Homo sapiens: one gene and its partner. The protein of the gene in region 1 purifies or fractionates together with the protein of each later gene. This does not show direct contact. Each region holds a gene or a part of one and is shown in the gene's direction. Other genes may lie near its edges.

Region 1 (3,500 bases):
TGCTGTACTCATTAACTCATCATTTAACATTAGGTATAACTCCTAATGCTATCCTTCCCCCCTCTCCCCACCCCACAACAGGCCCCAGTGTGTGATGTTCCCCTTCCTGTGTCCATGTGTTCTCATTGTATATTTTTTTAAATCTACCACATCAAGGCACCTCTTTTTCATGTTGCCCATGGTTTAGGTGAACATAAAGACAGAGCTCGTCTGAGGCAACATACAGTCCAACAAAGCCACCTGCCTCTCTGTCTCCACTCTCTCTCTACACTGCACGCGTGCTAGGTGTTGATCCTGTCTATTCCAGTGGAAGAACAGGTTCCGTACCATGTGGAGAATTTGCATGTAAAAGGAGACTGGGATATACAGGCTGGAGACCACATCAGGTGGCTGGGCATGTGGGATAAATCCTATTGAGCATCTGTCATAGGGCCTGTCACTTAGTAGACAGTCACTAAATATTTGTTAAATACATGATGCCTGTTTAACACATTTTCTACAACCATGGAGACCTCCACAACTGATGTAGGACAAAATCTTTCTGCTTTGAACTCTAGCCTTTCGGGCCAGTGGGATTTATGAAAAATGCCATCTCTATAGCTGAGGATGAAGAATGGAAGAGAATACGATCATTGCTGTCTCCAACATTCACCAGCGGAAAACTCAAGGAGGTATGAAAATAACTTGGGTTTTAATTAGAAACTTAAAGAATGAATCAGGTGGGGACAGGTAGAAAGTAAGATCAGAGTTCCTTTCCGAGGAGTAGTCTGCTGAATTTGAGCTTCCTAAAAATAGTCTTTTTATGTACAGAAAACACATCATAAAATTCATTATACAATGTCACTTATTGTTCCATGCCAGGCAAAGTCATGTCCTTCTGGGACTTATGTCTGCACATTTAACTATGGGTGGTGTTGTGTTTTGTGCTTAGATGGTCCCTATCATTGCCCAGTATGGAGATGTGTTGGTGAGAAATCTGAGGCGGGAAGCAGAGACAGGCAAGCCTGTCACCTTGAAACAGTAAGTAGGAGCACAGCCATGGGGTTCTGAGCTGTCATGAGCCCCTCCAGCTGCCTGCTATGGAGCTGATACTCCCGCTGTTGGGTTATTCCAGTGACCAGACAAAAGGAGGGCTGTGGTAATGCAACTTCAATGGGTCTCCCAAGATGGGGCAGCTCCGATGAGGAGGTGGGGCAGCTGGAGGAAAAGGATCTTCTCCCCTGTGCACAGAGGTCAGGGTTTACATATCTGTTAAATTGTCACCTTGGATATTCTGGAGGACTAAATACATCCTTTAGGGGGAAAAGTGTGATTGTATCAAAGTTTTAAGCATGGAGTGTATGGGATGGTGGAAGGGGAAGGCACTTGGTATCTGTTGGTTGGCAGTGAGTAGGGTGGGAAAGTTATAATGGAGAACTTAGAATAACTTTGATCATTTCATGTTTTTTTTCTGAGGGTATCAGTAGAATACTAAATATTAAACATTCCCACCATTTCTTTTTCCTCCAGTCTCAAAGAGAGAGGGTGGTAAAAACGCTATAGGTGGGGCAAGCCTATTATTTGCTGTCTACACTTATGCAGGAACAACAGGTGTAATCTGAGCCTGTCCTGGGCAGACAGGGGATATGTGGTCACTCACTATAGAAGTTTCCAAATCAAATTTTGAGAGTTTTTTTTAACCAGGACATCATTTGTCATTATATTTTACAAAAATAATTCTGCCATCAGGGCAACCTCAGCTCACCACAGCTGGGGATAGTGGAATTTTCCAAAGCTTGAGCAGGGAGTATAGAGAATAAGGATGATATTTCTAGGAGCTCAGGACATGGTACTGTTGCTTTGTAAAGTGCTGAAGAGGAATCGGCTCTGGGCATAGAGTCTGTAGTCAGGCAATGTCACCTGTCTTGAGCCCCTTAGAAAGAGTGAATTTTTCTACTCTTGTTCTGCTGAAGCACAGTGCTTACCCATCTTGTATCATCCACAATTAACACATGCTACTGCAGTTGTCTGATAGTGGATCTCTGTCTTTCTATGACTAGGCTCCTTGACCTCAGAGGTAAGTCTAACTCAGTTGAGTGTCTCCATCACCCCCAGCGGAGAGCCAGCTGTGTCACTGACACCTGATAATCACCTTCTGAGGGAGTGTGATGGGAGATGCTCCAGTAAATAGTTCTGAAAGTCTGTGGCTGTTTGTCTGTCTTGACTGGACATGTGGATTTCCTGCTGCACGCATAGAGGAAGGATGGTAAAGAGGTGCTGATTTTAATTTTCCACATCTTTCTCCACTCAGCGTCTTTGGGGCCTACAGCATGGATGTGATCACTAGCACATCATTTGGAGTGAGCATCGACTCTCTCAACAATCCACAAGACCCCTTTGTGGAAAACACCAAGAAGCTTTTAAGATTTAATCCATTAGATCCATTCGTTCTCTCAATAAGTATGTGGACTACTATTTCCTTTTCTCTCCCTCTCTCTTAAAAATAACTGCTTTATTGAGATGTAAATCACCATGTAATTCATCCACTTAAAATGTACAGTTTAATGGTTTGTAGTACATTTGAAGATATGTACGACCATCACCATTGTAAACTTTAAAACACTTCTGTCATTCTAGAAACCTCATACATGTTTAGCTATCAACCCCCTGCCAGAAATCCTGTTGTCGTATATAACCACTAGTCAACTTTCTGCATCTATAGATTTGCCTATTCTGGACACTTCATAGAAATGATATTAATTTTTCAGGGTTTTTTTAATTCTCTAGTTCATGAATTTGTACTTTAGTCTGTATTATTTTCTTTCTTCTGCTGGCTTCAGGCTTAGTTTGCCCTTCTCCGTTTACTGTGTTGTGGCATGAATGTAGATTATTGATTTGTGGGTTTTTTTCCTCTAAATTTAGACATTACAACTATAAATTTCCCTCTGGGCACTTGTTTGCTAAATAACATGACATTCTGGCCTATCACATCTTAATTTTTGCTCAGCTCAAAACAGTTTCTATTTGCCCTTTTAATTTCTACTTCAACTTATTGGTTGCTTAAAAGTTTATTGTTTAACTTCCACGTATGTGTGAGTTTCCCAATTTTCGTTACCTTATTGATTTTAGCTTTATCCTATGATAGGTGACAGAGATACACTGTGTTATTTCTATCTGATTTCTTGAAGAGCATGATTAATTTAAGCAGCAAATTATGATTTGGGTTATCCTAAGAGACCCTAGCCCAATACATAAAGGCAAAGAGATTAGGGCATTGAATTTTGTTCCTTTCATCATTCAAAAGATGCAGAAGGGGCTGCTGATCTCACTGCTGTAGTGGTGGTCCCTATGCACAGACCTTCCCTTGCTCAGCCACTGGCCTGGAAGAGGGGCAAAAGTCATAGAAGGAATGGCTTCCAGTTGAGAACACTGATGTATTTCACTCTTCTGATTGGTAGAGAAAATTAGAATTGCTCCAGGTAAATTTTGTATGTTCACAATGGTTTCGTTTTCTGTTGGTT
Region 2 (3,500 bases), on another chromosome or scaffold:
CACATTTGTCAACTAAGGCCTTGAGCAGGGCACTCCTTTCTTGGCATGGAAACTTTCTTTGACCTTGAATGCGGGTCAGTACCTCCTCACAGAGGTACCAAGGAGAATTAATGAGAGGCTTATATGAAATTTGAGCTCCTCCAAAGCAGAATATTTTAATTCTTGGATGAATGGTATATTTTGAGATGTGATAAAAGTTTTTTAAAAGAGTTTGAAGTTCTAAGTTTTTGGAAAAGCCCTATTCAAGTCCTTCCTTTTTTTTTTTTTTTTTTTTTTTTTCAGAAACAGGGCTTGCTATGTTGCCCAGGTTGGTCTCTAACTCCTGGGTTCAAGTGATCCTCCCACCTCAACCCTGTGAGTAGCTGGGACTACAGGCGACCATGCCTGGCTATCTAAGACCTTTTTGCTGATTTGGTTTTTTTAATTTTTTTGAGACAGGTTCTGGCTCTGTTGCCTGGGCTGGAGTGCAGTGGTGTAATCGCAGCTCACTGCAACCTCCACCTCCTGGGCTCAAGCCATCCTCCCGACTCAGTCTCCTGAGTAGCTGGGACTACAGGCCTGCACCACCACACCTAGCTAATTTTTTGTGTTTTTTGTGGAGATGGAGTTTTGACATGTTGCCCAGGCTCCCCTCAAACTCCTAGGCTCAAGCAATCTGCCTGCCTCAGCCTCCCAAAGTGCTGGGATTACAGGCATGAGCTACCATGCCTGGACTTTTTGCTGGTTTTTTGTTTTGTTTGGCTTTGTTTTTTCCTGGGGTTTTATGGGCTTGGTTACTAATCAGCCTGTAATCAAGATCTGAGGCCCGGTGCGGTAATCCTAGCACTTTGGGAGGCTGAGGCAAGAGGATCGCTTGAGCCCAGGAGTTCAAGACCAGCCTGAGCAACACAGGGAGACCCCATAGCTACAAAAAATTTTTAAAAATTAGCTGGGCATGTGGTATGTGCCTGTAATCCTAGCTACTCAGGAGGCTGAGGTGGGAGGATCGCTGGAGCCCAGGAGTTTGAGGCTGCAATGAACCATGATCACGCCACCGCACTCCAGCCTGGAAGACAGAATGACATCTTGTCGCTTAAAAAAAAAAAAAATGGCTGGGCACGGTGGCCCACACCTGTAATCTCAGCACTTTGGGAGGCCGAGGTGGGTGGATTGCTTGAGGCCAGGAGTTCGAGACCAGCCTGGCCAACATGGCGAAACCCTGTCTCTACTAAAATTACAAAAACTAGCTGAGCATGGTGGCATACGCCTGTAATCCCAGCTAAGTCGGGAGGCTGAGGCACAAGAATTGCTTGAACCCAGGAGGCGGAGGTTGCAATGAGCCAAGATTGTGCCACTGCACTCCAGCCTGGGAGACAGAGGAAGACTCTGTCTGAAAAATAAAAATAAAAATTTGGAAGCCTGAGGCTAACTAAATTCCTGTTTATATTTCATATATAAATAGTAAAGCTCAGATTGTTCACTCTCTTTTTTTTCTTTCTTTTCTTTTCTTTTGAGACAGAGTCTTGCTCTGTCTCCCAGGCCGGAGTGCAATGGCACGATCTCAGCTCACTGCAACCTCTGCCTCCCAGGTTCAAACGATTCTCCTGCCTCAGCCTCCCGAGTAGCTGGGACTACAGGCATGCACTACCATGCCTGGCTAATTTTTTGTATTTTTTAGTAGAGACGGGGTTTCACCACGTTGGCCAGGCTGGTCTCGAACTCCTGACCTCAGGTGATCCACCCGCCTCAGCCTCCCAAAGTGCTGGGATTACAGACGTGAGTCACCGCGCCCAGCCTCACTCTCTTTTTTCTTTTATTCTCTGTTAACCTGGTCTTGGCTTTTTTTGGAGTGCCTGGAGTAAACCAGTAACAGAAGGCTGTGGAACTGGCAGCCTATGACCCAGCATCTTTTTTAACAGCAAGAGTATTATCAGAAAGTGTCACAGCCCTCAAAGGAGTAAGTTATTAAGCTGGTCAGAGACAAAAGGGAGTAAGATTGTTCAGTAAATTGGATGAGGAGTGAAATAGTCATCTTTTAAAATTTCCCTCACCTGTGTCAGGCCACCAGTCCTGTCACTCAATCTAGTAGGATTCGAGTGCTTGCTGATGTGCCCAGGGACACTACGTACTGAACTACAACATCCATCTTTTAGACTTCTGACATTTGTTGGCCAGGTCAAGCTCTCTCTCATGAGGGAAATTCTGACAGAAAAGGCTTTCTGTTATCTGTAGGCTTAGCTGAGTGCCATGTTTCAGGCTTCCAAGCTCCTCACGCTTGGCCAAGGCTACTAATTGGCTTGGCTATAAAATGGGAGTCAGCAATTAAACAGCAGTAGTATAAAGCAAGGGAATTGAACATAAACTGACCCTCCCACTTTACAACCAAAAATGTTCACACCATTTTGGGCACTACACAAAGGAGTCTTCAAAAGGAAGTGAGCTTGGAATGATTCCTTTATAGCTTTTAGGAGATGTATGTGGAATATTATTATTGATTTAGGCCTCCAAGTCAGATCTTGGAAACTGGGTAGGTCCTCACATCTAAAGCAAAGGAGACAAATGGTTTGAATCCAGTCTCTGTGGGCAGCAAGCTTGTGGTATGACTTTGCCAAAACAACAGATGATTTATATTTTTCTAAACTCTTTTCATTAAATGGTTTAAGGGAGAATATTGATGGTCATGGTGGGAGGAGGGTTTGATCTACCTGAATTTACTCACTGAAGAGTAAATGCCTTATTCAGAGGTTCCTATCACTAGTTTCCTGATTATTTGTACTAAAGAATCATTAGCCAGTCTCAAGAGCATTGGCTCAGAAAACATCGTAACTGAAAACTATCTAGGCATGCTTCTTATTCAGAGAAAAGTAGGGATGGGAAACAGTTGAACTACAAAGACATTTGGGGAGAGGAAGACCTGGGAAATGGTGCTAGACTTCTGCCACGTTAAACGTTTAATGCTGCACGCAGTACTTTACTGGTCAGCTTTCAGTTTCAGAATCTTAGGCAGAGTCAGTTGGGGAGAAAGTGTGTGAAGAGGGGGACATTTGTAAGAATGTGGCTATTCTGTGAGCCCTTATTGTTAAGTCGAATACTTAGTGCTTTCCTGCTGCCACTAGCTTCCTGGACACTCCAGACTTTGCCCTTCTGCCTCTTCCCCACTAACAGCCTTTCCTCCCCAACACCACCCTCTCTAAAGCCAATCTAATCTTTGATCGCAGTTTCTGCACCCTTCTGGCTCTGCTAACTTTGTTGAACTAATTTTTGGTGGCCTTTAATGTCTGGTGGTGGCTGTGTGAGAAACTAATGAGGGATAATTGTATTTACTTACTGATTATTATTTTGCTTTAGGGACAATCTGCCAGACTGGAGTGCATGGCATGATCATAGCTCAGTGCAGGCTCAAACTCCTGGGCTCAAAAGATCTTCCCACCTCAGTCTCCTGAGTAGCTAGGACTACAGGCACATATCACTGTGCCTGGTTAATTTTTTATTTATATTTCATAGAGATGGGGGTCTCACTA

The links.
Region 2: the proteins of CYP3A7 (region 1) and CYSTM1 purify together in Homo sapiens (affinity purification with mass spectrometry, with the first as the bait; one large-scale study listed by BioGRID). This does not show direct contact.

What each region holds. Positions count from the first base shown.
Region 1 is NC_000007.14:99,714,697-99,718,196, reverse strand, and holds part of CYP3A7 (cytochrome P450 3A7), read left to right. Parts: intron 1-557; coding exon 558-671; intron 672-931; coding exon 932-1,020; intron 1,021-2,290; coding exon 2,291-2,439; intron 2,440-3,500. Other genes in the region: CYP3A7-CYP3A51P protein, read left to right, coding at 558-671, 932-1,020, 2,291-2,439. UniProt on the Homo sapiens protein: A cytochrome P450 monooxygenase involved in the metabolism of steroid hormones and vitamins during embryogenesis.
Region 2 is NC_000005.10:140,178,188-140,181,687, forward strand, and holds part of CYSTM1 (cysteine-rich and transmembrane domain-containing protein 1), read left to right. Parts: intron 1-3,500.